Regions from separate parts of the Homo sapiens genome. Here region 2 is linked to region 1. Evidence: fine-mapped expression QTL. A gene starts in region 1. The other region holds a variant in brackets. All regions are shown on one strand. Distances are from middle to middle.

Region 1 (4,403 bases):
TTAGTCAGGTGTGGTGGTGCATGCCTGCAGTCCCAGCTACTCAGGAGGTTGAGGTGGGAGGATTGTTTGAGCCCAGGAGTTCAAAGCTGCAGTGTCCACCACACTTCAGGCTGGGTGACAGAGCAAGACTTTGTCTCAAGAAAAAAAAAAATCCAAAGAAAAAGCATCTGTGAAACACTTTTCTGGGAACTAGGGACAGTTTTGTAAGTAAGATGGATAGTGTTTGGAATAGACCTCTCCATTTGACTGTTTCACATTCATTCATAGTGTAATGAAAGAGAAGGAAATTATCTGAAGTTATGAATAAGGGAGGAGACTTGCTTGTGTCCTTCAAGCTTACCTTTGCGAGTTGCTCGTGAATCTCAAGCAGGCTGGGTCGGTTGACCTTGGGCCCACTGATGCTGCCGGTGTTACGATAGTACTCTATCTTGGGAACGGCATCCATGGTGTTGTGGCCAAAAGTTTGTAGATAGTATGTGTTTGTGTGAGAATCATAAGCGTGAAAACTGGCATCTGTTTTAGCAGTTTCTCCACTTTGGAGGAAATTGTCATAGCACTCCTGATTCCCAGGCCTAAAGCTGATTCTGAGTCTTTTCTGAGCTTCATCCCCAAAAGAGGTTTCTTCATAATGTGGTGGGTCAGTATTGTCATCTGCAGCTGCACTGCTCTCATGGTTCTCATTTATGACACTAACTTGAAAGCGATTGGTATTACTGGGCACTGAATCCAGAAATACATTGGAAGAGTTGTTCAGTGACATCTTCCAAAATTGATTTTTTACTGAGCTATCTACTTTGTGGTTGTTTTAAAAAATCTATATATTTCTTCATCAAAATAAACACTAATGTGCTTCCATTAGGGAGCTCCTGGCTTTTGTTCTAGATGATTCAATAAATAGATTCTTGATATATTGTCTCCGATATAATCTTCAGGATGTTCTTCAAAGCTGTCATTGAAAAAGAAAATTAAACTTGTTCCAAGTAATACAAATATATTTAGGTAAGGGTGGGATATAAGGGAACAGTTTTATTTTACAAGACATACAATTTTAAACTCATTTCACTAAAATTTATCTGTCCAGGAACCTTAGTCATGTGAGTAATTAAATCTGATAATAAATAACTGGAAAACTGTTCCAGCAAACAGAACTTCCAATGCAGTCATTAAAATGTTACCTGTGTTTGTAGTATTTGCTTGAATTCAGTGCACTGGAGTTCACTGTGACTTTAGAAAAGATGTAACTTTACTTATTGAATACAGTAAGAGCTGATGAGAATATTCTCAGCCTAAGACACAGTTCACTGACAGTACTAAATGCTGAAACTGCAAAGTATTTTGATTGTTAGGAATATATACTATACAACATATAAAATGAAAAACAAAACTTCTAAAAAATATATTCTTGCTAGTTTATAAAAATCTGTACATGTTCAACTTATAAATTCCAAATTTTGTTACCTATGCAACAAGTAAAAAATTATGTTTTAGAATATGCATTTAAAAAATACATCCCATCAAGATGATGTCTCTGTGAATTCTTAGATCTTTTACAAGATCCAAATGTTTCATTTGCTCATACATTTGTTTGTTTTGCAAATACTAACATGAAACCTTAAAAAAATATGAATATAGAAATAAGTCATATATCTATAAGAAATAAGTCATATACCTTAAAAAAGTCCTCTGCTATGTTTAGGTAAAATAATCATGCTCTACTGACTCATTTTAATGAAATGTCTTCAATAATTGAGAGGTTTATATTTGACTGTGAGGTGAATAGACTTCACAATAATTTTCGCAATTTCATAGTACTGGCCTGTCTTAAAACACTTGCTTTAGAATTATATTTCCTTATTGATACCTTAAAATTTGGCTTTTCAAGGGAAGTTCTAGAAAAATGAGATAAATATAAATAAAAACTTGTCTCTCTCATGCAGTTATTAAAGCTGTGTATTTGAATTAAAAAAACCCTCAACTTCATTTCTCAAGTAACCTTTCCTGGGGAAATTATAAATGAAGCTATTATCGTTTTAGTTTTTACAAAACACTTCTCTTCATAGTCCTTGACACCCTCACCTACTCCTCAGAATCTACTTTATGACATAATATTAAGTATGATTTTTACCCTGCCCAGAAATGTTCAACTTACCACCAAGGAGCCTTCTTCTGAGGAAATGTAACCTGCTTCAGCGTCACCCAGGAATATATGGGACACTTAGCTTTCAGCCAGAAAGTTAGGCTTCTGCTTATTGGTTAGAAACTTTCTTGAAAGAGATGACTGTGCAATGATTGGCCTGGAATAGTACTGTAAGCCCCACCAGGTCATTAGCCCTGAGGAAACTTAAGTACCACATCAACTGGTAACTAGTAGTAAACCATTAATCCTTTTAGACAGGAAGTAACATAGAGTTTCTTTAATTCATAAGGAGAATTGGATCCCTTAACAGCAATTGTCCAAAAAATATGAGCATTGCCATTAGTCATTTGGGAATAGATAAATTGAGTTCCACCGTCTTACAGATGAGTCCTAGTGACCTCCTATTGTTTAGCATGTGTATCAAAATATAGTTCTCCAGAGACAATTTCTATACTCTGTAACTAGAAAGTAGTGTCTGAAATGATTTTATCTTGCTTGTAGTAGACATTACCTTGACTCTTTTGCATGGGAAGTAAGCAGATTAAGAGTGGAATCAATGATTTATTGAAAATATTTCTATTTTGGGAAATATGGGAAAATTTTTTTTTTTTGAGATGGAGTCTCGCTCTGTTGCCCAGGTTGCAGTGCACTGGTGCAATCTCAGCTCACTGCAACTTCTGTCTCCCAGGTTCAAGTGATTCTCCTGCCTCGGCCACCTGAGTAGCTGGGATTACAGGCGCCCACCACCACGCCTGGCTAAATTTTTTTGTAATTTTAGTAGAGATGGGGTTTCACCAGGTTGACCAGGCTGATCTTGAACTCCAGACCTCAGGTAATCTGCCCGGCACAGCCTCCCAAAGTGTCAAGATTACAGGTGTGAGCCACCGCGCCCAGCAGGGAAAACTGTTTTAAGCAGGAACCAAACTGTGGGTAAGCATCTCAGTGGCACTACTAAATGACCTTTCTGTCTCCAACTAGAAAAACATTTTTTTGTCCAACTCAGTTTTTGAGTTTTGTTGAGGAAAAGGTTTTTCTTTTTCAGATCTGCAAGTAGGTGATTATTAACACTGCAAACAATTCCTCCCTCAAGTCTGTCACTGATTATCAATCAGGATGATTGAATGAGTCCTCTTTGTTTCTTATAAGAAACGATTTAAGTGATTTCCAGTTGTCTGAGTAGCTCGGTTGTGGTGTAATATAGTGGCTAGGAGCAAGACTCAAGTCAGAAGGCCCAACTTATGTCGTGGCCCTGCCACTTGCTGTCTGTGTGAACTCAGTCAAGTTACTCAATCTTTCTGTGCCTTAATTTTCTCATCTGCAAATGCAGTTGTGGATTATAATTGTACCTACCTTGTTGTAGAGTTATTTTGAGGAATAAATGAGTTAGTTTGTGTATGGGGTTTAGAACAGCAACAATTTGTACCTAGTGCTTGCTTTCACTATTTTAGCGCTATTTACAATTAGCTGGGGATTTTTACTTAGCACATACAAGATTGTGAGGTGAATCATTAGAGATTGGGATAGATATTTTGTCTATAAAAAATAAGTGTAAAGGTAAGTTAGTGAACTGATACAGGATTATAGAAGTGTCTAGAGACACCTAAGTAAAACCCTTTAGATCCTCTTCGTTAAGTAAATGTCATGCTAATCAGTCAGGCTAATGTCGTGAGGCTATATCAGAAATAGAGACAGAATTACAAGTATATACCTATAACTCATTCCACTCTTAAAGGTCACCAGTACAAGGCATTTATCTGTTCAACAAAGGGTTCTGATTCCTCATATAGAAAGTGTTTTGGCATAGGAGTGTCCGATTTCAAATTCAGCTGGGTGGGGCTGGTTGTTTAGATCAAGACAAAGAACAGCTAGGATGGGGCTGGCACCCAAAATAAGTTCTATTCACCAGACCAGGACAGGAGCCATAAGCTGGCATCCTCCAACCCTTTTTGGAGCCACTTATTTACTCTACAACCTTTTTCCTCTACCAATGACTGTGAATACCTCTGATACCAGTCAATTTCCTTTTTCTTGCTGACTGACTGCCTGACTTCAGAGTGGTATGAATTTGTTTTAGTCTTGGTCTTATATCAACCAGACATTTTCATTCTAAGCCTTTTATCTCTCACTGTGAAATGAAAGTCTTTGTTCTCTTTTAAGGGGATTCAGGCATCCTGGAACAAATGGGAGACAGTTTTGGGGGATATGGATGAAATAACACCATCCATAAAGCCAACCTTGAAAGGTGAATCCGATTTAGGCCTTTCAG
Region 2 (4,403 bases), 97 kb after region 1:
TCATTACCTCAGTTGCTGCTGTTGCATGGGCAGCTTTCCCTCAGGATCCTGGAACAGGAGGTCAGTATGGGCATCAGCTCGACTAGGAGCTTTCATCTTATCTACTGAGTGTCATTTTTTTTTTTTTTTGTCTCTAACCATCACATGAGTTTCTAACTGGAGCCACAGCCATGACTGAGTGTTGAATGGCATTTCACTCAATGGTTCACATATTCACAAGGCACCTGCCAACTTCCCCAGACCCTTGTCCTTTCCCAGACTCAAGTTAGGCACTAAAACCAGGGTTCAGCACTGGTTTAGAGCATGAGTGAACATTCCTAATTTTCGACCCAATTCAGATTGGTCTAATTTTACTGCTGTATGGCTCCAATGCTGTGAAAATTGTCTAAAACATTTTCAATTCCTAGGAGGTCTTCACTGTCTTCTCAAAGTTATACTTTTTATTTCCTTCACTGGAAGGCATCTTCTAGTCCTCTAAATACTAAGGGGGAGTTTAAATTATTTTGGCAGTAGTCAAGTTTTGCAGATCAAATATTATTTAAAATAAACAATATTTTAGAGTGGAAATAATTTTAGAGCTTGCCAAATCTGGGTTAAAATCTTCCTCCCCATTCTTTCTGAAACAGTCATTGTGGATAATACCATATGCTTTTTAGGCTGTGTGATAAAAAAACAAAAATATCAACCCCTTTTCCCTCTGTACTACTGTATGAGAGCACATTTTATGTTAGTAGAACTTGGCAGAGTCCTTAACTCTCAATGAAACTGAATGCATTGGGCAGGCCATCAGCTGGGGAAAAAATTAACAGATAAGACATTTTCATTAGCTGTATTTACACAGAATGGAATTGGATATTTAGCCTCTGCTCTTTGATACTTGTTGCTCTTACTTCATTTGTGCTAGCCTTACTCTGCCTTTGTTCTCAGAGTTTGAATAAAAGCCTTTCCTGAGTGTTTCAGTATGTGGTGGTTTAAGGAGTGATCTGGAAAAAGGCCTCTTGCTTGGCTTTGCCATTTTCTCCTCTAGCTCTGTTTCATTAGGGGGTTCTGAGGGGGTGGCCAGTGAGAACAAGAAGTGGAGGGGCCCTGACTCAAACACAATAGAGTGTGGAGATTTATTTCCTTCACTTTAATATAATAAACCCCTCAGGGTCTGAGTTAGCACCATCATTTTTCCTTAGTCTTCTATGTGAAGGCTGCCATCCCTGTGTGGGGAGATTAATGCCTCCTTTATTATAAATAATCGGGATGAAGGAATTCATCAGGGATGCTTCAAAATTTGCTGGGCTTAGAAGTTCTCCTACAGGTTTGGAACTCAAAAGCCAAAGAACTGAACATACAAGACTCTGGTCCTGAAGAGAAAAAGCCAACGAATGCTTTATTATAATTCTCTCTGTCCTGGGATAAGAAATGCAAATTACTCAGTGTGCTTTGAAGTCCTTCCTTAGCAATGAGAGAGGGAGGCTGTCATATCTCTGTTGTTGTTGCAGTTGTTGTTGCAGAGGAGGCTGGTGTGGGGCTAGAGAACAAGGAGCAGAATTGACCATAAAGACTGACCATTGTAATCTGAGTAGCTTAGTACATCATGCCCATGCAGTCCAAGACTGTTCCTGGGACTGGAACTATGGCCATTCCTAGTAAGTCTGTCTGCTGAGTGCATGACCTGCAGAAGTCTTTGTGAAAAGGGTCCTTGCGTTTTGGCCTGCTGGGCTGCTGTTTTAGATATGTCCAAGGAATTAGAACTATATTACTTTTTTTCTAGAACA[T/C]GAGGACACACAAATCTCACCTTTTGCCTTTCTCTCTCTCGTTTTCCAGTTCTTTCTGAAACTATTAGATCACTGTGGTCTACATGGACGTGGGCCTCCCAGATCCCCCTTGAGGAAGGAATGTCACCCCAGCTGCTATGAGTGCCAGCTCACAGCCCCTTCATGCACTCCTCAGCAGCAGGGAGCCACCTCACCTGAGGGCAAGAGGTTCACAGGGCAGCCCATGTCCAGGTAAGGCAGGGACATAAAAGCCCAGCCATTTCAGCCCGACACACAGCTCTAGTGGCTAATATTCATTTCGGAGCTGCCCTCTGGTTTAGCTGAGGCTTTGTTGGACTTAACTTTGAAGTTTGACTTCTCCCACTTCCCGATCCTGCTCCCTCTCACAGTTCCTGAGCCCAATAAATATCTTGTACTCCCAACTTCATCTCAGTGACAGCCTCTGAAGAACTCTACCTTCAGTGACTTCATCTCCCTGATAGACTCAGCCTGCTCGGTAGCCTGGTAGAGTTCTATGCTCAGACTTCCAAACTTTACTCTTGATATGTAAACAGTGAGTTTTAGATTTTAGAAAATGCTTTCTTTTTTCCTTCAACAAATCTTGGCTTTTAAAACTGTTGCCCTCTGTGGATAGAAGGAAAAAAATTGCATTTGACACTTGAAGTTGGGGAATGACTCCTTTGTTCTAGGCTGTGTTTGGCCTTTACTTGAAGCAATGAATGCCATTGATTCAATGCGTGGGTAGCCATAAGGCAAAAGGAAATGAAAAAAAAAAAAGTTGGAAGGCATTTTGAAAACATTATCTCCTTTATATCTATATGAAAGAGTTTTGTAAACCCCAGAGCACCAGGCAAATGCTGGTTGCTACTGATGGCAGAGCACTGCGGCAGTGCACTGAGCCCTGGGCTGGCCGCCTCTTAGTCTCCCACAGCAGACCCTGTTATTCCGCCAAGTTTGGGGGTCTGGAAAGTGTGGAAGGGATGAGGCAGCAGCTATGATGGTGGGATTGGCTGTTTTCTAGCTATAATCTTTTTATCTCAGCGCCCCCCCGCCTCGTGTCCTGGGCTTTCTGCCCTCCTTTTGACGCATGTGCTTATTTTTGTGGCTCTGGAGGATCTTTCTAATGAGATTTTCCTCCTGGATACAAAGGGAACAAGAGGTTTCATTTCAAGGGCAGGCTGTCCTTCTCCGCCTTCTGTGCTTACCTTTTGAGCATGACTGCACAGCCATTAAATCGTCCTGCATGTGGACTCACACTCATATCATTGGTGTGGCCACTGGAGAACCTCAAATGAGCAGCCACCTTAGGTTTCCTTCTTAAGGGATGTGGTTTAACTGCAACATTGAGTGTCCGCACGGCACCACCCCGTTAGCAGACTTGGCTTCCCCTGCAGAGGATAGGTCAGCAAGAGAAACATGAACGGGGGCTGCCATGATGGTAGCGTCTCACAGACACTGAGCTTCATAGAGACCAGGTCTTTGCGCCTAGGAGACTGAAGCAGAGCTCAGAAGTTTCAGCAAAGTCCAGGTCTTACTCTCCTGAAGATCCACAGTTTTCTGTTAAAAAAAAAAAATCATGAAAGTCATTTGGCCCTTCTACATGGCAGAGTAGAAGTTTCCTAAAATATATTATTATTAATTATGTATATTATTAATCAAAATAGCTCTTTTGAGCATGCACTGCTCTAAGCATTTACATTTATTATGATATTTAATTCCCACAATAACTTTAGGAGAAATTTGTCACTAATATTCTCATCTTATATATGAGGAAGGAGAGGCACAGAGAAGTTAAGAAGCACCCATTCTTCTGTAGTCCCTAACTGTTCATAAGGGTTTGCTAACTAGGTTTTCAGTTACTGAGTAACTATTCATAGAGCACCTGCTGTATACCAGATGCAGTGCTAGCACTGGAGACAGAGTGCTGAGCAAATAAACATGGTCCATGTAACGTTGGAAGACAAGGATGGTCAGAGTGTGTGGATCTTGATGGACAGTATCTACATATCAGTTTTTTTGTTTTGTTTTGTTTGCAGGGGAATAAAACCTCTTAAAAGCTCAGCTGGGAGAAACCAGGTTTCTGGAACATTTCTAAAGGATGTATTATATGTGGCCCATCTTTCTTCCCCATTTCCAATCTCAGTGAATGATGCCGCCCAGGTTGTCATCTGTGACTCCTACTTCTCCCTTCCCTCACAGCATCCATCAATCACTGAGTTCTGATAACTCTGCTTCCTAAACTTCTCTTGAGTTAACTCACTCCTCTCCATATCCATCACCACCATCATCTGTTGCCCAGAGTTCTGCAATAGCCTCCTGACTTGTCCCTTGTCATCTCTCTTGCCACCCTACAGCCCGCTGTCCTTCCAACACCTGTGTGTCAAGTGGGCAGTTGAATATAGGGGTCTAGAGATCAGAGGTGCAGCCAGGCAGGCAAGGAGAAGCTGGCAAATGAATTTCAGAAACAGGGTCACTGAGGTAGTAGGAAAACCAGAGGAATGTGGTATTTCCAGAGTAGAAGGTGGGCGGCTTTAAAGGAGGGAGCAGTTAGGGGTTAAGATGAAATATGAAACATCCCCTAACATTTGCCAGCACGGAGAACATGGGTGTCTTTCAGAGACGTTTCAATGGAGTCCT

Direction of the effects. Positions count from the first base shown, and alleles are read on the strand shown. Sizes are in standard deviations (SD) of each study's normalised expression.
For the expression in prefrontal cortex of the gene that starts at base 2,178 in region 1, C is the high allele of the variant in region 2 and T is the other (large effect, 1.2 SD a copy in BrainSeq).

The links.
Region 2: its variant is fine-mapped to the expression of SLC12A1 in prefrontal cortex (BrainSeq, PIP 0.95).

What each region holds. Positions count from the first base shown.
Region 1 is chr15:48,204,077-48,208,479 of GRCh38, reverse strand. SLC12A1 (solute carrier family 12 member 1) reads right to left here and starts at 2,178. Exons shown (of 27, transcript NM_000338.3): 1 at 2,150-2,178; 2 at 341-946. The coding sequence starts at 760.
Region 2 is chr15:48,107,535-48,111,937 of GRCh38, reverse strand. LOC124903485 (a long non-coding RNA gene) reads left to right here and starts at 1,816. Exons shown (of 2, transcript XR_007064619.1): 1 at 1,816-1,997. The variant T/C (reference allele first, on the strand shown) is at 1,767.